Homo sapiens: one gene and its partners. The protein of the gene in region 1 interacts with the protein of each later gene in a pairwise test. Each region holds a gene or a part of one and is shown in the gene's direction. Other genes may lie near its edges.

The links. Proteins that work in one complex are often made in the same cells at the same time.
Region 2: the proteins of EEA1 (region 1) and ZFYVE16 interact in binary tests that used the Homo sapiens proteins (3 or more experiments, as listed by UniProt).
Region 3: the proteins of EEA1 (region 1) and CDC73 interact in a two-hybrid assay, tested with the Homo sapiens proteins (one study listed by BioGRID).

Annotation. Positions count from the first base shown.
Region 1 is NC_000012.12:92,848,897-92,856,556, reverse strand, and holds part of EEA1 (early endosome antigen 1), read left to right. Parts: intron 1-2,602; coding exon 2,603-2,642; intron 2,643-3,531; coding exon 3,532-3,645; intron 3,646-4,260; coding exon 4,261-4,382; intron 4,383-5,290; coding exon 5,291-5,446; intron 5,447-7,660. UniProt on the Homo sapiens protein: Binds phospholipid vesicles containing phosphatidylinositol 3-phosphate and participates in endosomal trafficking.
Region 2 is NC_000005.10:80,403,795-80,411,517, forward strand, and holds the start of ZFYVE16 (zinc finger FYVE domain-containing protein 16), read left to right. Parts: upstream 1-4,269; 5' UTR 4,270-4,359; intron 4,360-5,897; exon of another isoform or gene 5,898-7,723.
Region 3 is NC_000001.11:193,145,825-193,153,484, forward strand, and holds part of CDC73 (parafibromin), read left to right. Parts: intron 1-2,042; coding exon 2,043-2,141; intron 2,142-4,479; coding exon 4,480-4,558; intron 4,559-6,555; coding exon 6,556-6,620; intron 6,621-7,660.

The DNA of each region.
Region 1 (7,660 bases):
TTAGTGAAGATTGAAAACTGGGAAACCTGTTCTATTAACAATGTTAAGTTTTTAAAAAACTAAAAAATGTGTATTTGTACATACATGCACACACACTCATATTCTGTATGACTTTACATAAAAATAATACATAGAGAAAAACAGAAGAAAATCACTGCAGTATCAAAAGTGGTTCTCTTTGAATAGGATTTTTTTGATGTCTTAGATTCTATATAGTTTAGTGTATTTTCTAAGTAAATGCCTTAATTATGATTTTTATGCTGAAATTATATTGATTTTATTCTGAAATTATAGGAAGAATCAAAGATTAACGAAGTTTTACCAAATAATTTTACCATAGTCATCATTTGTAAGAATAAAAGTAGTTACCCTTCAGCAATAGTTCTAATATTTTTGTAAAGTAATTAATAATCCCTTTGCATGTTATCTTGGCATATTGTGACTTTCAGTGAGGCTTGTTTGCTTTTTAAAGCCTTTGCACCAAGAATTGGCAGTTGGACTGAAAAAGACAAAAACAAATAAATAAATGACAAGATAATCAGTCTTATTACTACTCAGCTTTTCTAATTGGTGATTCTGTTAACATTAAAGGAGTTTTTAGTAATCCAAATTACTTATAACTCATTTACTCATGTTTTATATAGATGCCATTAATAATTAATTGAGTATGGGCTGTATTCTTTTCTGTATCTGAAAGCAGAGTGGAAATTGTTTACTGCATTTGAGATGACTATTTCACATTTAATACACTTAAATAACTTTTCCACAGTGCAAGATGTAAGTTACCTTGGCAGGAAATTTACCTTTTGGGGAAAATATATTTTAAATACTTAAGGTTCTTAGCAATCAGTATGTCTTAGTTCAATGTATAGAGAAACAAAAAGTCAGATATACTAGGAAATGCCTTATTAAACTCTTTCAGATGGGTATAATTCTTTAAAATATAAAAATAATGCCAAGGTAGTATATTATTTTGTTCCTAATACATGTGACAAATTAAGCCTTATGGAATCTGTTATTTCTGCTTCTTTTAAAGTTGACTTGTCCTGAATTAAAAATTTATGCTTATAAAGCCAATTTTTTTAGTAGTGATAGTTTGATAGCATTTTTTTTTTTTTTTTTTTTGAGACAGAGTCTCGCTCTGTCACCCAGGCTGGAGTGCAGTGGCGCGCGATCTCGGCTCACTGCAAGCTCCGCCTCCCATGTTCACAGCATTCTCCTGCCTCAGCCTTCCTAGTAGCTGGGACTACAGGCACGTCCGCCATCAGGCCGGCTAATTTTTTGTATTTTTAGTAGAGACGGGGTTTCACCATATTAGCCAGGATGGTCTCGATCTCCTGACCTCGTGATCCGTCCGTCTCGGCCTCCCAAAGTGCTGGGATTACAGGCGTGAGCCACCGCGCCCGGCCGTGATAGGATGTTTTAACTAATGCAAGTTTTAGTAGTGATAGCTTGATAGCATGTTTTAACTAATGCAAATGTTCAACTATTATAGGTGTTCTGTTTGATTGTAATAAGAAGCATGATTTGAAGTATGATTTCATGAATTGCATGGTTTATTGCCAAAGAGAGATTTTCTTCGGTTCACAGTGCTTAAAAGGGAGAGAAATAACATGAACAAATCTTACAGGGAATATCAATAGATGAGGTATATTAACCATATAGTGGGTGAGTTCCAAAATTATTAAAGTCTAGTCACTTTCTCAGGATGGAAGCAGGCTTTTGTGAAAAGTAAAGTCTAAAAGGGTTGAGGTGTACCTTTTTTTATGAGCAGTCTCTCTGGAGAGATGGCATCCAAAACAGTGGAGATCCCAGACAATGGGGATCTCCTGCTGCTAGAGGAGATGTAGGTGTTGGCTGCCGAGACTCAAAGATCTAAGGCCAATAGGATATGGCCCTATTGCAGCATGAGCTGCCAGTCTCAAAGAAAGCAGCTGAAAAAGTGCAGCCTGCCATGGCCTAAGCTTTCAAAGTATCTTTCAAACTCTTTGGTTAATATGTATTTTGAAGTCCAGTAGTTGAGGTCAGTAGCTCAGATCTGCGGTATGATAAGGTCTGATGTAATACTACTGAAGAGAGGAGAAGTTCATTCCAAGTTCTCACATATGGGGTCTAACAGGTATTACATGCTTGAGCGGAGGGGGATAACACTCCAAGTTCTTATGACAGCAAAATATGTAGCATCCATGTAGCAAACTATGTTAGTGTTAGAAGTTATTTCAAAGCTACATACTAATACGATTGAATGTTGCCAGTTGACTTAAGTATTTGTTTTAGAATCTATATTTATAATTACAATAATTGTGCTATTTATTTATTACTGAATTCATGGAATTTAAGATGACCATAATAACTTCATATATATTAACATACAAAAAAATCTATGTTAGAACTAATAAACTGAAGTTAGATCATTAGGCTAGTCTGCCTGCTGGTCTCTTACAGATCTGGAAGAATGGAAACCACCAAATTTAAATTTTCACCAAAATCTTACTACTTACCTGAAAGAAAGTGACTTTCAGAGATTTTTTAACATTGACCATTTTAACAGTATTATCTTTTCCTTTTAATTCATTTGTTTATGTCTTTTGTTTTAATTGAGGAGGCCAAACCTGATGGGTTGGTGACTGATTCATCAGCAGGTAACTTTACTTAAAGCAGATATTTTGTCAGTTTTCTTTTTCTTCTTATTTGTTTTCCTTTCTTTTTCTTTGATGCCTGCCAAATGAATTTTGTTTCATGGTTATGCTTTATGACTCTAAAACAGTGAAGATAATGGTCATATTCTAGGTGTAGAGAGTTACATGTGAACTTCATAATTTAATCAGTTAACTAAAAGTTTAGTTTTTTTAGTTCATTATATTTTGAAGTAAGAAACTTCTGGAATATTACATTAATATGGTTGTTTAATGAAATTTTAAGTCTATATTAAGAGTAAGATAGTTTATTTTCTTTATGATGAAGTATTAGGAGTTGACTGCATACTTTAATGAATTAAAAGGCCTTGAGATCTTAACCATTTCCAACATCCCGCTTTATAACTAATTTTATCAGAGGAGCAGAATGTTTTCCTTTTTGAGCCAGGCTTGGTGGCTCATGCCTATAATCCCAACACTTTGGGATACTGATAGGGGAGGATGGCTTGAACCCAGGAATTTAAGATCAGCCTCCGTAACATAGCGAGACCCCATCTCTTAAAAAAAAGATAAGGGGTGTATTCCTTTTTGGTCATTTGATGGATATGGGAAAATAACTGTGAAATGTGAAATCAAAATAACTTGTAATAAAATATTTATAGATTATTTAGCAGTGATTCTAAATATTCATTTCATTTGTAGTGTATGTTTGTAAATTATGATTTGTACCTTAAGTGAAGCAGATATACTTAATTTCTTGAAGTGTCAAAATACTACTTGTAATTGGATAATAAACTTAAGTTGATCATCTTTACAACTGTAATAAATATAAGTAATAACAATTTAGCATATGTAATTAACATGGTATTTGAATAACTGCGACACTTTTTTGTAGAACTACAGTCTTTGGAACAGCAATTAGAAGAAGCCCAAACAGAAAATTTTAATATTAAGCAAATGAAAGACTTATTTGAACAGAAAGCAGCCCAACTTGCTACTGAAATTGCAGGTAAATTGAGTTAGAATTTTTTAGCCAATAAATCAATCTCATTACCTTTTTGCCATTATATACCCTAGCAATAAATATAGTATTTTAGTGTGTTAAAGCATTTGTGATAGACTTCCAATGGTGATTAATGGAATTTAATGATTTCAGAGTTGCTATGTAAATTATTTTGTTTGTCCTCTAGCTGCCTGCCTTCAAAGGACTGGTGTTTCTTTGTAGATTCTTCTTGAAATTTAGAGAAGATACATTTTCTTCTGTGGCATGCTTAAAGATTAAAAAGGAACATTTTAAAGAAGTGAAGTAAATAATGTAGTATAAATGTAACACTTGGTTATACTATTACATATATATGTTTTTAACATGTGCTTTTAGGTAAAATATGTGATTAAGTACATTAAAATGCTAATTATTAACTTAATGTTGAGTGGAATTTATGTAGACAGTTAATTTTAAGTTCATTTCATGTAATTAGAAGTATAAATTTACTGTATATATTTATGGTTATCTAAGGAATGTGAATTTGAATTAGAGTGATATACAGATATGCAGAGTAATATATGGAAACTTATAAAACTGTCCTCCCCTTAAACTAATATTTATATAACTATCTTTAATTAGATATAAAGTCAAAGTATGATGAAGAAAGGAGTCTTCGAGAAGCTGCTGAACAAAAAGTGACACGTCTGACAGAAGAATTAAACAAAGAGGCAACTGTAATTCAAGATCTGAAGACGGAACTGGTAATTTAGGAATTATTTATTGAGATGTACTCTTATACCTTTCTAAATTAAAAATAAAATACATACCCTGAAGGAAAATGTTTAAAAATATAATTTGAGTGAAATCAGGAAATAAGCAATTCCCTATATTCTACCACCTGCATATATATTCTGTATATGATTTTTAAAATAAAAATGGAATGTTATGATACGTAACTTACTACCTTAACATTTTTGTTGTTTCTATCTAAATATCATCTGTCATTTTAGTAGTTTTCATATCTGCATCTCTGATCCTGGTCTTCTCTTGCATGTTTGTTTTATAAATCCATCTGCTTTTAGGGTACTTTGTGTTGAATTTCTAGCTTTAATTTCAAATTCAACAAGTATAAAATCAAAGTAATCATGTTTCCTCATTACTGTATTTCTGTTATTGGAACCATACATCTCTAATACTCTCCCAAGACTTAATAATCTTGGATCTGTCCTTGACTTTCTTTCCTTTATTTAGCTCTCAATAAATATATAAATTAACTACATCCAACCTGGAGCAAACTCTATGCTTTCATTTGCTCCTTCATTTTTATTACCAGTTTTGTAGGATAGAAAAAGAAGGAATGTAGCATTTTCAAGTCACTGTTATGACCAATAGATGTAGTTTGTGAAGGGAAGGAAAACAAATAAAGTAGTAAAGATAATTGTGAATTTACTATACAGCACCTTGAGTATTAATACTATTAAATATGAGGTAGGATGGGAAGAGGAAGTGGCTTATTGTGGGAGAAGATATCAGTGTTCAATGTTTGAAGTCTAAAAATTGATATTGATGATTGTTTCCCTTTTGATTCCTTTGTAGTGAAATGATTCTAAAAATGTGTATTATTTTAGTTTTTCACTTTAATTTTTAATTAAAATGTGTTGTTTCACAGCTTCAGAGACCTGGTATAGAAGATGTTGCCGTGCTAAAGAAAGAACTGGTCCAAGTTCAAACACTAATGGATAACATGACCTTGGAACGTGAGCGAGAATCTGAAAAACTCAAAGATGAATGCAAAAAATTGCAGTCACAATATGCTAGCTCAGAGGTAATGAAGTTCATTGTACTTAAATGTGATTCATATTAGCTTGTGTAGTGTATACTATTGAGTGAAGCCAGGATTTGAGATTTTTCTGAGTGGCCTATCAAAATATTTGTCTTTCTTTCATTTTTGATCTGAATAATATTTGTTTATAGTCAATGTGGTCTCTCAGTATGTTTTGCTTTATAAAGCTAGACACTCAGGAATATTTGCATAAAGATTATTATTCTGTTTAATATATATATTGTTGACATGATATTTAAGGTTAAATTTACTCAAGGTTGGTTGATAAATGGTAATTGACTTTAAAGGAAGAATGATAGCATTTTCTACAATTATATTACCAATTTTGTTTAGAAAATATATTTAAGAAAGGCTTATTTTGTAATAAGCTTATTTCTTTTTTTTTTTTTTTTTTTTTTTTTTTGAGACAAAGTCTTGCTCTGTCACCCAGGCTGGAGTGCAGTGGCGTGATCTCAGCTCACTGCAACATCCACCTCCCGGGTTCAAGTGATTCTTCTGCCTCAGCCTCCCAAGTAGCTGGGATTACAGGTGCCTGCCACCACGCTTGGCTAATTTTTGTATTTTTAGTAGAGATGGGGCTTCACCATGTTGGCCAGGCTGGTCTCGAACTCCTGACCTCAGACGGTCTGCCTGTCTTGGCTTCCCAAAGTGTTGGGATTACAGGCGTGAGCCACTGCACCCGGCCATAAGCTTATTTCTAATTGATGGACTTTGAATTATGAATTTGAAAGAAGTCTTGAACTAGTCTAAATTCAGTCCAGAACTTCCCTTTATGCCAACCCTGCTAAGTGATCCACAATCCTTGCTAGGTGGTGTACGGTGTGCATATTTCTTCCTAAGTCTATTTTATTGAGCTGACATTTGTTTCCCTGTAATTTACATGCGCTGGTTCTGGTTCTGTCCTTAGGAATTACACAGAATAAATTGTTCCTCTTTCCACATGAGGTATTTGAAGACTGCTCATATTTATTCGGAGTATTTCTCTTCCAAGATAAACATTTTCAGTTCTTCTACTATTTCTTACATGACATGACTTTGGCCTGTAAATCCCTTGTATAATATGTCAGCATTTAATAAACTCTAAGATGTATAATACATAAATGTGCTTAAAAATCCTAGCCTTTGTCCTTTTTACTTTATTATAGGAGACATTTTGTTATGACTACTGTTATTTGTAGTCTTTAAGCTCCCTTATGTAAAGTAGACCTCTGATTTTCATATTTTCAGTTTAAAAAGTTGTTACCGTAACATTTTAATTTGAATCTCTTCCTTAGAGTTTTGTAACTGGTGATCTAAAAGCCACTCTATTCACAAATATAACATGTCATCAAGCTTTGGGGTATAAGTATTATAGATAACCCATGTCTAATTCATTTTTAAAAATCTTTCTTTATCTTATGGGAAGAGATGGTGAAAGTTTGTGGATATAACACACATAGGCATGTAAGGCCTTATGATGCCTAACACTACACTCTCTAACTTATGATATTTGGATGCAGTTTTTCCAAAATTGACACTTTGTAGCCCAATAACACTTAATTCCAAAAATTTTCAAACAATTTCAGGTGGTTCATGAACTTACTGAAGCCAGTTAAAAGCTCTTGTCCTACTGGTATTATTAATCAGCAGAAGACAATGATAAATCTATAAGTACAAATGTGAAATCAAGGAGAGGCTGAATCAAAGAAGTCTCATGAGGAAAAGTGCTATTCAGATGTTAATGTCAAAATACCTAAACCAGGGTGAACCCAGTCATTTATTTCTTTGTATCAGTAAGAACTATTTTTGTTTAGATATGTCTGCCTATTGGTATTTCTCAAATTAAAAAAAAATACACTCCCTTTTGATTAAAAAATATCTTAAATGCTATTTGAAATTTTAAAATAAATGTATTATGGTGACTAAAACAGAACCAAATTAATGTCAGTTTTAGGAATATGTATTTTAAAGTTGAGTCCTCTCTGACTTATTCCAGCTGCAAGTTTTGGAGTTATGCATATACTTTTTAAACAAATAGAACATTAACAAGGAAAATAAATTTACATGTTTACTTGCATTTAAAAAAAATACAGGCTGAGTATGGTGGCTCACCTCTATAATCCCAGGACTTTGGCAGCTGAGGCAGGCAGATTGCTTCAGTCCAGGAGTTTAACCAGCCTGGGCAACATGGTGAAATCCTGTCTCTATAGAAAGTTA
Region 2 (7,723 bases), on another chromosome or scaffold:
CTGGTCATTGTAGATTTTTTATCTCTAATCTAGTTAACTTTGGGTACTACTTGGTACAAAGTTTAATTTTCATTGGTATAGGGCCTTATGTAGAAGTTCAAAACCCAGTTCTGAATTTCTGAACTCACATTTGTGCCGCTGTGGTCATCAGAAAAAAAAAAAAAAAAGGAACTGTTTACTAGGAATTGGAAGAAATATACTAGCTTTAAACCACTCACTGGCTAAATCAGGGTTTCTCAACCTTGGCACTGTTGATATTTTAGGCTGAAAACTTCTTTGTTGTTGGGGGTTCTCCTGTGAATTGCAAGACAGTTAGCGGCATCCCTGGCCTGTATCTATTAGATATCAGTAGCATTCTTTCAGTGGTGACAACCAAAAATGCCTCCAGAGATTGTCAAACGTCCTCTGGGAGGCAAAATCACCCCTCACCTCCACAGAGAACTATTGGGCTAAAGTAGTAGTCATTGATTTGAACTTTGGTTTGTTGGTTGATTTCATCTATTTTTACTACTTTATAGATCAGAAGTTTTGTGGAACCCAAATTAAATACTCTTTCAAAGCATAATTAGGAAAGGTTATTATAATTCTAAACATCTACTAAAAGTATTGCAATTGCTTTGTTAGCAGATTAAATTTTTAGTAGACATTTGGCATTAAAAGGTAATCAAAGGCTACAAATTTTATATGAACAAACTTATTAATTCTCCTTAAAAAACAAAAACAGAAACAAAAACAGAGCAAACGAGTCTTCATATAGTGACAAACATGTGGAGTGGTCATCAAGTCCCTGTATCTTATTCTCAGTTTAGTAGACTAAGAAATTCAGTTTTAAAATGTATTTGCAAGTAATTGTGCTCCAGGGAACTTATACTTGCATTAGCCAAATTCATAGGCTACTGATATAACAACATGGATGTAACTGATCAATTTATAAAAAGAAATATAACCATCAAGAATAGCAATTGTTAGGCTGGCACAGTGGCTAATGTCTGTAATCCCAGCACTTTGGGAGGTTGACTACCTGATTACCTGAATTTGAATTCTAATTGGGAGGATTGCTTGGGCCCAGAAGTTTGAGACCAGTATAGGCAACATAGTGAAACCTTGTCTTTAAAAAAATAAAAATAAAAATTATCTGGGCATGGTGATGCACGCCTGTGGTCCCAGCTACTCTGGAGGCTGAGGTAGGAGGATCACTTGGGCCCCAGGAGTTGGGGCTGCAGTGAGCCATGATCCAACCACTGCATTTCAGCCTGAGTGATATAGTAAGATCCTGTCAAAAAAAGAAAAAAAAAAGAATAACAGTTATTCATCATTTACAGTCAGTGCTTCAGTTAAGTACTTTATGTGGATTATCTCAATCAATGTATTAGTTCTATTAGCATTTGACTACAGGAGCATCAAGCTTAGAAAATTTAGGCCACACAACTAATAGGTTATAGAATTAGAATTCAAATTCAGGTAATCAGACTCTAAAGACCATACTTGAAATGACAGGGGAAATGGATTCTTAGGTTTCCTGGTCAACTTATCACACTTGTTACATTAGAGGTTTTTTTCTTTTTCCCCAGAATATAAAGGTAATATATAGATGTTGTAGAAAATGTAGACTGTCCAGGATAATAACATCTACATTCTAATCAGATAGACATGACTACTATCAACATTTTGATATACTTTCTTCACTCTTTTACATACATTGTATACTATAGCTGACCTCATACTACATAGGCAATGTTAAATATTTTTAAATATTTAAAATGTTTTTTCATGAGGTAATTTCCTCAGGCCATTAAAAATTCTTTGTAAACATAATTTTAATAGTTTTAATCACATACATGCAGTAATTATTTTAACCATTCTCTTAATGGTGGATTTTCGACTTTTATCAATTTACTTACTATGGTTAAGTATCTTTCCATAGAGATCTTCGTCTTCTGGACTACCTTCTTATAACTTCCAAAAGAGAAATGATCAAATTGGGTCATGTGAACACTCATAAGGTTCTTGATATGATTTGACAAATAACTTTCCAAAATCTTTGTCCCAATTTATATCCCTCCCAGGGTATAAGTGTCCACTTCACTCTTCTGTCACCAATCGAGTTTATTCACATTTTAAACAGATTGGGTAATTAGATGCCAGACAACCTCTTTTTTGTCTCTGTTTATTATTAATGACTTTGAATATTGATTGGTAAAATGTGTAGTAGGCATTTAAATTTCATATTTTGTGAACTGACCATTGTATATACTTTCCCCATTGATCTATTTAAGGTGTTTGTGTCTTTTTTCTATTCTCTTTACCCTCACACTTTACCGTATAAATACTTCTGTCCCCAGTATGCATTTGTATATGTGAGTCTCTGCTACTAGACTGTGGTTCCCCATGGGCAGTGGCCCCATTTTATTTTATCTGTGAACAATGCCTAACACATAGTAGGAAAAAGGCATACTGTAGTTTGTAGAATTATTCTTAGGATTAAATGAGATAACGTAAGCAAAGCATCTAACACACTGTCACAAAGCAGATGCTCAATACACACATTACTTTAGGCAATCAAAAGTTTGGCTATTTCATTTTGTTGTTTAGGAAAACCAAGGTTAAAGATTAAGTATCTTTCAAAGATCAGGAACTATAGTTGTAAACTGCAGATTTAAGATGCGAACCCTGATTCTCAAATCTTTCATCACAAATCACATGTGGCTGGAATACTCGAAAAATTATAATTCTTGCAATTTTTTTTTTTTCTTTTTTGAGACGGAGCCTTGCTCTGTCACCCAGGCTGGAGTGTGGTGGCTCGATCTTGGCTCACTGTGACCTCTGCCTCCTGGGTTCATTCAATGGTCCTGATTGTCCTGCCTCAGCCTCCCAAGTAGCTGGGATTACAGGCGCCCGCCACCACACCCAGCTAATTTTTGTATTTTTAGTAGAGACGGAGTTTCACCATGTTGGCCAGATTGGTCTCGAACTCCTGACTTCAGGTGATCCGCCTGCCTCGGCCTCCCAAAGTGCTGGGGTTACAGGCGTGAGCCACTGCGCCCGGCCAATTCTTGCGATTTTTGAAAGATCAGTATGAACTGTGAGCTGTTTAACCTTTGAGGAACTGCTTTTTCCCTGTATCTGTCTGTATCTGATCCCACATGTATGTCTCTTCCCTTGTTTTTATTTTTTATTTTTTTAGAGACACGGTCTGGTTCTGTTGCTCAGGCTGGAATGCAGTGTTGCCATCAGAGCTCACTGCAGCCTTGACCTCCTGGGCTTAAGTGATCCTCCCACTTCAGACTCCCAGCCAGTAGCTGGGACTACAGGCACGCGCCAACACGCCTGGCTAATTTTTTCATTTTCATTTTTAGTAGAGACAGGGTCTTGCTATGTTGCCCAGGCCTGTCTGGAACTCTTGACTTCAAGCGATCCTCCCGCCTCGGCCTCCCAAAGTGCTGGGATGACAGGCGTGAGCCACCGCGCCGGGTCTCATTTAAATTTATAGGAAACTTGTGGTAAAAATAGCAAAACTCAACAAGCAAATATACATCAAGTGAGTGACATTTTATTTCTACATCAGATAAGTCAGCTTTTGCTTTTAGACAGGGAGACAGCTGTTCTACCAGCTGCTTTAAAATAAAAATGCAGAACTAACGCAGCGAAGGGAAGGAAAGTGTGGCTGGGAATGTCCAGTCAGCTGGAGGGGCTTGGAGCTCGGCGTTGGCTGGGAGCATTTTTATTGCTGCCGGGAGGAGGAAGGGGAAGCGGGGGAAGCGGGGGAGGCGGGGGGGCAGCGTGTTGTAAAATCAGTTTGAAGTAAACAAAAAGTTATGTTTTCCGAGGGGCCAGCAGCGCGGAGAGCAGGCCTAGCCCGCTGCCGGGAAGGCGGGTCTGTCCAGTAGAGACCGGAACGCCGCGCAGGCTCAGCAAAGGGCTAAGGCTGGAGCCGGGGAAGCTGCCTCTAGGTTAGCGAAGGGTAAAGGAAGTCAGACACTGACGCGAGTGGCCTCCCGATCCCGCAGTCGAGTGGAGAACCGAGTCCCGACCTAAGGTCGAATCATCAGGCGTCCCCGTCACCCAACAACCCACTCAGGCACTTCCGGTAAGAAATCTAGTGCCCTTGGCTCGGAACCTGCGTCGTAGTGCGCAAGCGCCCCGGGCCTGGAGACGGCCGCGGATGCCGAGGGAGGGGGCGTGTGAGCCGAAGAGGAAAGCGTCCTCTGCGCCTGCGCTCTCTGCGCTGCCCGGTGGGGCGGGGAAAGAAGCCCTGAGCCGGGATCTGGCACTCCCAGGACTCCCGGCCGGGGTAGCTCTTCACTCCTCAGCGCGACGTCGTGTCGAGTTCCCAAAAAGCTCCGCAGGGGCTGTAGGGAGGTAAGAGCCCCCCGTGACCGGTCGTCTCGGCCTCCCCTCAGCCCTGCTGTTCCCACAGGGGGGCGGGGTGACCGCTGGACCCGCCGACCTGGGCGCTGGGTCTGGCCCTCTTCCTCTGGGGACAGAGCCTGGGCCCCGACCGATTCCTTTTCCGAGCCCCCGGAGCTGGCCGGGGAACCCTGGCCCTCCAATCTGATGTCCCCTCCTGGAGCCTGAAGGGCCAGACCGGACTGGACCGGGAGGGCAATCACGGCGGCTGTTTGCCCGGTTCCCCGCTCCCGGGCCGCCGGAGTGTTCGGCGCTCCTGGGGGAGAGACCCCAGCGGACGGAGGGAGAAGCGCCCTGGCGCCGCCGTCCCGCCTGGGGAGGGGCTGCGACTGCGGAGGGGACTGTGGTTCTTCAGGAGTGGCAGAGGCTCGGTCCCCGCAGAGGAGTCTCATCGCCGCCGGTGCTCTCGCACTGTCCATTCCCGCACCCATGCATTTTCTCTTGGTTAGAGACCAGAAGGATGCAGTGGCCGTCTTTCCCGCTGCCTTTCCTTTGGTACTTTTGAGAACTCCAAAAGAGGACCTTATTTTTAACTCTTATTTGTACTATCGTGATTGCAAATATTATGTTCCAGACTAAGGATGTTCTTTCTTATTAGTTTGACTTGTATGAAAACCAGTCCATACATTTGATATTAAGTTAATCTTTTCAATTCAAAAAATAGGCACTTTGTTGATTCAATCAGATTCCTCCATTTATTCACTTGAGCTTGTCGTCTCTTGAGTTGGCGGGAGTTTAATGGTTTAATCCAGTAGAACTATATATAATTTTTCGCCTAATTTCTTCCTTTTTTTCCTCTCCTGGATATTAAACCGCATGCTTAGTGGCAAAAATTGAAAAAATAGAATAAAGAATAAGGAAAAATGATCAATCATAATTCCACCATGTAATAGTAATCAATTACTTATAATATTTTGACTTTTTTCCTTTGAGTCTTTTTTTCCCCTGTGCATTTTCTTGAGATGAGATTTTATATCGTTGGATTGTCTGCTTTCCTTGATTTAAATTACGTTGTAAGCATTTCCCCATGTTTTTAAAAAGCTTCATAAAAATGACTTCTTGATTATACATGAGCAAAGTATCTTTTGAAACAGTTATATTACAGATAAAGCCAAATCCGCATTAATTATCCTCAATCATAATGTTACATGATAGAATAGTGCTACAGTTCATTTAACATTATGATTGGGGATAATTACGCTTAAAAATTATTGAGGACCAATAGAGTTTTTGGTTCCTAATGCTGCAGTATATTTACCATTTTGGAAATTAAAACTCAGAAAATTGAAAATGTTTTATTCATTTAAAAATCACAGACTCATGTATTAAATAATTTTTTAGTGAAAAGTAACCATTTTCTAAAACAAAACTTAGAAGAGGAGCGTGGCATTGTTTCAAATTTTTGCGAATCACTTTAATGTCTGGCATTATAGAAGACAGCTGGATTTTCATGTTTGCTTCTGTTCAGTCTGTTGTGCTATCTGGTTTAGGTTGAAGCATATGAAGAAAACACCAGCCTTGAACAGATACGTAGCAGGAAAAGCGAGGATCTTACAAGCCTGCTGAAAGGCTCCTGGGGACATCCAGGGGTCCTGAGACCACAGTTTGAGAAAGCTGATTTAACCATTTTTGGATTGGTGGGCTGTTAGGTTGTTTAAAATTTTACACTGTTACAACCCTTGCAACAGTGAAAGTTCTTTGTGATGTTTTCTGGTGTATGCGTGCTAGTGTTTTTTCTGTAAGTAGAATTGCTAGGTCATAGAGTTTTGCTTTTTTTTAAGTTTGTTAAACACATTACTTTTGATGCCTGTATAATTTGCTTTTGTGCACTAATGTTGGTGTTTAGATTGTTTCAACTAATGATTTGGTGAAATATCTTTGCATGTTTTTAGTTGTTTTGAATTATTTTCTTTTTGAGGGGGCTGGGGGGAGTCCAGTAAAAACCAGACAACTGCCAGATACATTTTAAGAGAGCTTTAACACATGGATTCTTTTCTAAAATTTCTAAAAAGATAATTGTTAGATCAAATATTAGGAATCTTTCTCAGGCTATTGGTACATATTGTCACATTGTTTTCATGGGAGATAGTACCAGTTTGTTTCCTGTCAGCAGTGTCTGACATGCTTTAAAAAAAAAAATCACACCCTTACCAACATCGAGTACTTTTATTATTTTAAAAAATTGTTTCAATTTAGCAGGCAATAAATGGTATATGTTCTAATTCTCATTACTTTGATAGTGCACTGAATAATTTTCATAATCTTACTAGTTGTCTGTTGATGTTATTTGCTCGTTTATAGTCCAGTATCCAAGTGTTTTTCTAACACATTTTTATCTTCTTAAATATATTGTAAGGAAACGTGCTGTACTTTGTTTGTTTGTTTTTTAAGACAGAGTCTCGCTCTTTCGCCAGGCTGGAGTGCAGTGGCGTGATCTCGGCTCACTGTAACCTCTGCCTCCCGGGTTCAAGGGATTCTCCTGCCTCAGCCTCCTGAGTAGCTGGGACTACAGGCACGCGCCCCCATGCCCAGCTAATTTTTGTAGTTTAGTAGAGACAGGGTTTCACCATGTTGGCCAGGATGGTCTCGATCTCCTGACCTTGTGATCCGCCTGCCTCGGCCTCCCAAAGTGCTGGGATTGCAGGTACGAGCCACCTCACCCGACCTTAGGAAACGTGCTGTACTTTTTTTTAAAGGAAAACAACAAAATTATGTTTTCTCGGTTTACAAGAGCACATGCCTTTTTTTTTTAAATTTATTTTATTTTTATTGATTTAGTTTTTTGAGATGGAGTCTCGCTGTGTCGCCAGGCTGGAGTGCAGTGGCACCATCTCGGCTCACTGCAACCTCCGCCTCCTGGGGTTCAAGCGATTCTCCTGCTTTAGCCTCCCAAGTAGCTGGGGCTACAGGCACGTGCCACCACGCCCAGCTAATTTTTTTTTTTTTTTTTTTTTGTATTTTTAGTAGAGACAGGGTTTCACCATGTTGGCCAGGATGATCTCGATCTCTTGACCTTGTGATCTGCCCACCTCAGCCTCCCAAAGTGCTGGGATTACAGGCATGAGCCACCACGCTGGCCAAGTATATGCTTATAAAAAAAAAGTAAAATAGTATGAAGACATATCATGTAGCTCTGAAAGGCTTACATAATCCCATTCCTAGATTTATAGTATTACTAACATCATTAATGTTTGTTCCTTCATATTTTTTTACTATGCATTTGTTAATTTTTTTTACAACTTATTTGTAAAAATAGGTTTGCACTATGCATAAAGTTTTGTGATTTGATTTTCTTTCATTTAACATTATATATTGG
Region 3 (7,660 bases), on another chromosome or scaffold:
TGTATAGTATTTATTTAACATCTACAAACTAGGCAAGTGCTAAACACTGACCAGAGGTGCATTGGTCCTAGCTCTCACAGAAGTTATACTCTTCAGCAGAAGTCAATATTAAATAAGCGGTAATTATTACGTACATTATAGGGCAGACACCCAGCAAGGGCAGTTAACTTAGTTGAGAGTAAAGAGGAGTGATACCTAAAGAACAAAAACTAGTGAGGGAGGTGAGAGGGGTAAGGTGGGAAGAGTGGTCCCAGCCAAGGAAACAGAATGCCTTGTTTAAAGAAGAGAAATTATGTTGTATTTGAGGTTCATGAGGGCAGCGACCATGTCTTTTTTGATCATCATTGTACCCAAGTGCCAAGCAAGGTGTTTGGCTTAGAGTAGATTCTTACTACATATTCCTTCAAATGTTAAGTGATTGATAGGCAGCATAAGAAGAGCCCCAAAGGAACTGTCAGACATTAGGGGTAAAACCAAGAGAGAGTAGCATCTCAGAGGCCAAGTATCTTTGTCTGTTTTGTGCTGCTGTGGATATCACAGACTGGGTAATTTATGAAGACAAGAAATTTATTTCTCATATTTCTGTAGGCTGGGAAATCCAAGAGCATAGCAGTGGCATCTGGTGAGGGTCATTTCATGGCAGAAGGCAGAAGCAAGCAAGCAAGCAAGCAAGCAAGCAAGCAAGCAAGCAAGCAAATGAGACACAGAGAGAAATGGGGCCAAACTTACTCTTTCGGGAATCCGAGCCCACTTTTGCAATAACAACATTAATCCATTCGTAAGGGTGGAGCCCTATGACCTACCTAATCACCTCCTAAAGGCTCCACCTCCTAATACTATTAGAATGGAATAAAATTTCAACATGGGTTTTAGAGGAGACATTCAATCCATAGCATGAAGGAAGAATATTTCATGAAGGAAAGAGTCGTCAGATTAGTTAGCTGTGTTGACTTTTGATCAGCATGTAATTGCATTGTGAGTTGAAGAGCATTTGTACTTGTACTTTCCAACTTACACATCTTTGAAAAGTGTACATTGACTTCTGATAGTATCTCAAAACTCATATGTAGCAATCTGAAATTAGCACTGGAGTTTAACAGGAGGATGTAGTAGTTGATTATTTTTTTTTCTGAACTAGAAGCCTCTTTTGACAAATGTATTTATATTTTATTTAGATTTTTTTTTTTAGACGGATTCTTGCTCTGTCTCCCAGGGTGGAGTGCAGTGGCGCTATCACGGCTCACTGCAAGCTCCACCTGCTGGATTCACGCCATTCTCCTGCCTCAGCCTCCCAAGTAGCTGACACTATAGGTGTCCACCACCACGCCCAGCTAATTTTTTGTAGTTTTGGTAGAGACGGGATTTCACCGTATTAGCCAGAATGGCCTCAATCTCCTGACCTCATGATCCACCTGCCTCTGCCTCCCAAAGTGCTGGGATTACAGTCACGAGCCACCGTGCCCGGCCTTATTTAGATTTTAACTTGCTTTCTGGTTATATATTTGAACAGATGCAGAATATGAATACATTTGTAGCAGTTTTTTTTTTCTTTTTTTTTTTTGAGATGGAGTCTCGTTCTATTGCCCAGGCTGGAGTGCAGTGGCATGATCTTGGCTCACTGCAAACTCCGCCTCCCGTGTTCACACCATATTCCTGCCTCAGCCTCCCGAGTAGCTGGGACTACAGGCACCTGCCACCACGCCCAGCCAATTTTTTGTATTTTTAGTAGAGACGGGGTTTCACCTGTGTTAGCCAGGGTGGTCTCCATCTCCTGACCTCGTGATCTGCCTGCCTTGGCCTCCCGAATGTAGCAGTTTAAGTAAAATGAAAATGATGAAATGAATACCATGGGATTTACAATAATCAGTCTCTGGATCAATATCTTAGTAGTGGTTGGTTTTTACATATGTGTATAATAATGATACCTTATGACATATGTAGTAGGGAAGAATCGATAGTAAGATAACTTAGTCTTAAATTATCAACTAAATTTACTATTGTATATTTAAAGTGGGCTTAATTAAAATCCATTTATATTTTAGAATTTTTCCAAGAACATTTTTGCAATTCTTCAATCTGTAAAAGCCAGAGAAGAAGGGCGTGCACCTGAACAGCGACCTGCCCCAAATGCAGCACCTGTGGTAAGAATGCTTTACTGCTTTACAGTAGATTTAATGAAGTTGCCACTTATATTGCAGTGTAGTAACGTTGAAGACATCTTCACATTTTAAAATCAGTGGATTCTAAACCTTTTGCTCCTTTAGCATATCTGAAAGATGTGAAAGCCCTCCCCAACATTAAAAGTTACTTACTTCAGCAGTAATTCTTAACTGGAGCAGTAATTCTTAATATACCTGGGTCAGAGTCTGAAAAAGGTTAATTAGGGAAAGCCCTCTATTTATTTTAGGTAAACTGTGGCTGGCCTACTCATTGTTGCTTGGGACAATTGCTAACCATTGTTAATAACATAAATCCCTGTTAACTCCCAGTTTGGGGTTCTTTTTGGCATTGTATCTATTACATCTTGGTGAATGTATTTCTCTTGATCACCAGCCATGCTGTCCTTTAATTGTACCTCCATTTCAGCTGCTCTGAGAGTTGACTGCCTTCTCTTTGAAGTGCCACTTAAGACCCTCCCAAAGTAAATTTCACGTATGACATATAGCCTATATTTAAATTCAAACATCCTCTAATTTTGTTGAAAATCCTTCCAGCTATTTTCATATGATTCAACAAAGGAATAAAACATACAAATGAAATTGTTTCTATTTTCTGCAATAGAAAATAGAAGATTCTATAAATAGAAAATTTATAATTTTTTTTTTTTTTTTTTTTTTTTTTGAGACAGTCTCACTCTGTTGCCCAGGCTGGAGTCAGTGGCACGATCTTGGCTCACTGCAACCTCCGCCTCCTGGGTTCAAGCGATTCTTCTGCCTCAGCCTCCCAAGTAGCCAGGATTACAGGCGCATGCCACCCCACCCAGCTAATTTTTGTATTTTTAGTAGAGATGGGGTTTCGTCCTGTTCAAGACCAGGCCGGTCTTGAACTTCTGACCTCAGGTGATCTGCCCACCTCGGCCTTCCAGAAAACCTTCTATATTTTTAAAACTCTGTTTCAAGTTTTAAAAGGCACATTGAAATGTATTAGAGTACTAATACAGCCTTTGCAACTACTTTGTAGTAGTTTTATTTGCTCATGAAATTGTTGGAATTTAACTTTTAAAGATGGTAGGCTTTTGTTGATAATTAGATAAATACTTTTAGTTGACTCTCCATCAAGTACTTAAGTGCCTTCTATTAGGAAGTCTGCTAATGATCTTGAGATACAATAGTGAGAAAGATTATAGTCCCTACTTTCTTTGAGCTTATAGTCTAATACAGCAGTCCCCAACCTTTTTGGCACCAGGGACCAGTTTCGTAGAAGACAGTTTTTTCATGGACCAGGGGGAGGTTTTTGGAATGAAACTGTTCCACCTCAGATCCTCAGGGTTTAGTTAGATTCTCAAACGACCATGTAACCTAGATCTCTCAGCAGTTCCCTACTTATTAGATGTTTTTTTTTTTTTAAAGTAGTGGAGTAAGAGCTATGATGGCAAAGCACAAGGTACTTAGAATTATGAATTTGTTGACATTTTGAATAGCTGTTGATAGGAAACATGTCAAACCTTAAAACAGTTTTACCATTTGTGACTGATTATTCTTTCTGTATATTTATATAATCGTTAGAATACTTGAAGGTTTTAATGTTTGGCATTTGACTATAGAAGTATATGCCTAGTGTGAAGTAAGCATATACTTATCATTCTTGATAGGTATTGATAAGTATATTTTATTTGGCATAATATTTGATATAGAATCCTATCATAATAAAATGAAAAGTATTTCAGTCTTCATGAATTTTCCAAGTAGCTTTGGGAATATTCCTAAATATGTGTTTTTAGTTTGTTAAACATTGTGAGTTTTGATAAAGTATTTGTGATTAAATAATGCATCATTAGACTGACAGCCTTTTCTAATTATTTAAAAAAAATACGTCTTCAGTCTTACTCTGTTTATAATGGATTAATCATCATGGCTTTCATGTTTATTTAAGGATTAATAATTTGGGTTTTTTTGTTTTGTTAAAACAATCATAATTGCAGGGAAGAGTATTATGTCGTAAAGGTACTTTAGCCAGGTATGGTGGCTCATGCCTGTAATCTTAGCACTTTGCGAGACTGAGGTCGATCACCTGAGGCTGGGATTCAAAACCAGCTTGAGCAGCATGGTGAAACTTTGTCTTTATAAAAAAAAAAAAATTAGCTGAGTGTGGTGGTGCATGCCTGTGGTCCCAGCTACTTGGAAGGCTGAGGTGGGAGGATCACTTGGGCCCAGGAGGTCTTGGCTGCAGTGAGCCATGGTCATGCTACTGCACTCCAGCACATTAAATAAGTGACATTTAAAAATATTAACAAGTAACTCATAATTAATTTTTTTACAGGATCCCACTTTGCGCACCAAACAGCCTATCCCAGCTGCCTATAACAGATACGATCAGGAAAGATTCAAAGGAAAAGAAGGCAAGTTGCTTAATTCTTATCTTCCCCTTAGTGTGGTTGTGTTGAACTTGAGAGGCAGTGTGGCCTGATGTTTAAGGGTAAGGGTTGGCAAAGTAATGTCTACAGACCAGATCTTACCCACTGCAATTTTTCTTAAATAACATTTTGTTGGGACACAACCACACTCATTCATTTATGTATTTTATATATGGCTGCTTTGGCTTTGTGACATCAGTATTGAATTGTTTCAGTAGAGACTGTGTAGCCTACAAAGCCTAAAAATATTATCTGGCCCTTTACAGAAAAAAAGTTGGCCAACCCCTGGTTAATAGCATGGATTCTGGATCCAGATAGCTTATGTCGTAGTAACTTTTTGTGTGAATTTTAATGTTACTTTAACTGCATTCTGCCTTAGTTTTCTCCTGTGTATAATTAAAATGTTATTATAGTGCCTGTCTCTTACCATTATTGTGAGTATTGGACTGGTTAATAAATATTGAATTCCCAGAATAGTATCTGATATGTAAGTAAATTATCTATAAATGTTTGCTGTTATTCATACTGCTTTTGTTTTTATATAATTTAAAGTAGAGATTCTATATGTTAAGTCATTTTTCCCAAGTTATAAATGTGTATGTACATTGAGAACTTGGAAACAAATTTTGAGCAATGATGGGAGGACTTACTTTGTGATAGTCTACGTGGTATTCTGGCTAATGCAATAACACCATTTCTGCAGTTGTGAGGTGAGACTAATGTCAGTGTAACTTCCTCTTGGGATCTTCATTCATCATGACTTGATTCATGAAAATATTAGGTAGAAGCAACTGGAAGTTAATGATATTTTTAAGCATAATCTGAAATCTTCATTTAAGTTTTTTTTAAATGATATGTTGCCTTGATGCAATGAATTTTGTGTGCTGACTTCATTCAGTTGTTAAAGGCATGCACTGGATATGTGCCATAGAAAGACTACGTCCATTCTTTCATTATAATATTCAATGTTTTTCTTGAGGAATGAATTATATAAAGCAGAGGTTGATAAATTACAGCCCCCAAACTAAATATCACCCTCCATGGGCCAAATTGGGTTGCCCCCAATTGATCACATATATTGTTTATTCTGCTTTTGCACTAAAATACAGAATTGGGCAGTTGTGACAGATTTTAAGGCTTGCAATGTGTTAAAATATTTGCCTTTACAGAAAGGCATATTGGGATTCTGTCCTGGCACTCCAATCATTATTTACAACATTGCTTTCTATAAAATATGTAATATGGTTGATTGCTGTAGCTCACACCTGTAATCCCAGCACTTTTGGAGGTGGAGGCAGGAGGATTGCTTGAGTTCAGTACTTTGTGACCAGCCTGAGCAACATGGCAAAACCGCATCTCTACTAAAAATACAAAAAAATACCTGGGTGTGGTGGTGCATGCCAGTGGTCCTAGCTACTCGGGAGGCTGAGGTGGGAGGATTGCTTGAACCTGTGGAGGGGGGATGGGAGAAGAGGTTGCAGTGAACTGCAGTGCCACTGTACTCCAGCCTAGGTGACAGAGTGAGACCCTGTCTCAAAAGAAAAAATATATATGTATGTATGTATATAAAAATAAGTATATGCCTTATGACTGAAACTTTGGAACACTACTTTTTATAACTTTGGGTCTTTTCATGGTATTAGATGCTTTTAGTGGTACTATCATTGAGTATTAGTAGTAAGTAATTTGGGGTTATAAAGTATTCAATCTTAATTTTTGAACATAATTGCAGAGATAGTCTTAACCAGCTTCTATACAATAGGCTTGCTGGTCTGTATTTAATATATTAATATTTTTTAACCTAGAGTCCTTTTTAAAGTTTTTATCTTCACAAGTACGTAATTTAATTTTACATAGTAGATTCAAGGCTTTGTATATTATTGAACCATCACATTCAATGTAGATTATTACTTTAGATTTGTTATAGGTCATAAGATACATGATCTATAAAATCTTAACAATAAGCCTCTTTTTTTTCGTAGAAACGGAAGGCTTCAAAATTGACACTATGGGAACCTACCATGGTATGACACTGAAATCTGTAACGGTAAGTTAATTTGGCTGTAGATGTTCTTTTGTTCCAGGGATTTTATGTGAGTAGCACATGTTGAAGTAAATCTTTAGTCTCTCATATTTTTTATTTCAAACATTTTTCTTTATTGATCACTTGTGCTGATTGATCTGTGTGGTGTATTATTTGATTCATGGGTATCCTGTTTCATTTTTCTTTTCCTTCAAATTAAGTTGAATATATGTAAATAAAAGCTGATTTGATTAACTTGCAAGTAGGGCAATGCCACCTGGTCAGTATTTAAAGCCTTTAAGTTATGAGGTCAGTTTGGGAGAGCTTTTTCGCATAATATCTTTTGTTTTTATTTTTATTTATTTATTTATTTTTTTGAGACAGAGTCTCGCTCTGTCGCCCAGGCTGGAGTGCAGTGGTGCGATCTCGGCTCACTGCAACCTCCGCCTCCCGGGTTCACGCCATTCTCCTGCCTCAGCCTCTGCGAGTAGCTGGGACTACAGGTGCCCACCACCATGCCCAGCTAATTTTCTTGTATTTTTAGTAGAGACGGGGTTTCGCTGTGGTCTGGATCTCCTGACCTCGTGATCGCCCGCCTCAGCCTCCTGAAGTGCTGGGATTACAAGTGTGAGCCACCGTGCCCAGCCTTGTTTTTAACAATGTAATGTCTTTCGCTCTTTAAAGAGATGGATTATAGTGATTATAATGCTTACAAAGTATGTAATTAACAGAACTAAATACTTGGGTATCTGTGAATATAAGCCTTTGGTTCATGTTTAGCAAACTTTCTTTTTTTAACCTAAAAATGGTTATTTCTATATATTCTGACCAAGCCATATTTAACATTTTAAATTTTTATTTAATGATCGGACTTGGTGATGTAGAACAGGAATTCTGTTAACCTCATTTTGCATATTTATATTCTAGACCATTCTACCTTTTATACTTTTATTTATATTCTAGATTATTATACTTTTAAAATACTATGCATGTGTATTAAATAGAGTATACTTAAGACACTAATACCAAACTTTTGTCTTTGCTTGTGAATCATCAGATCTTTA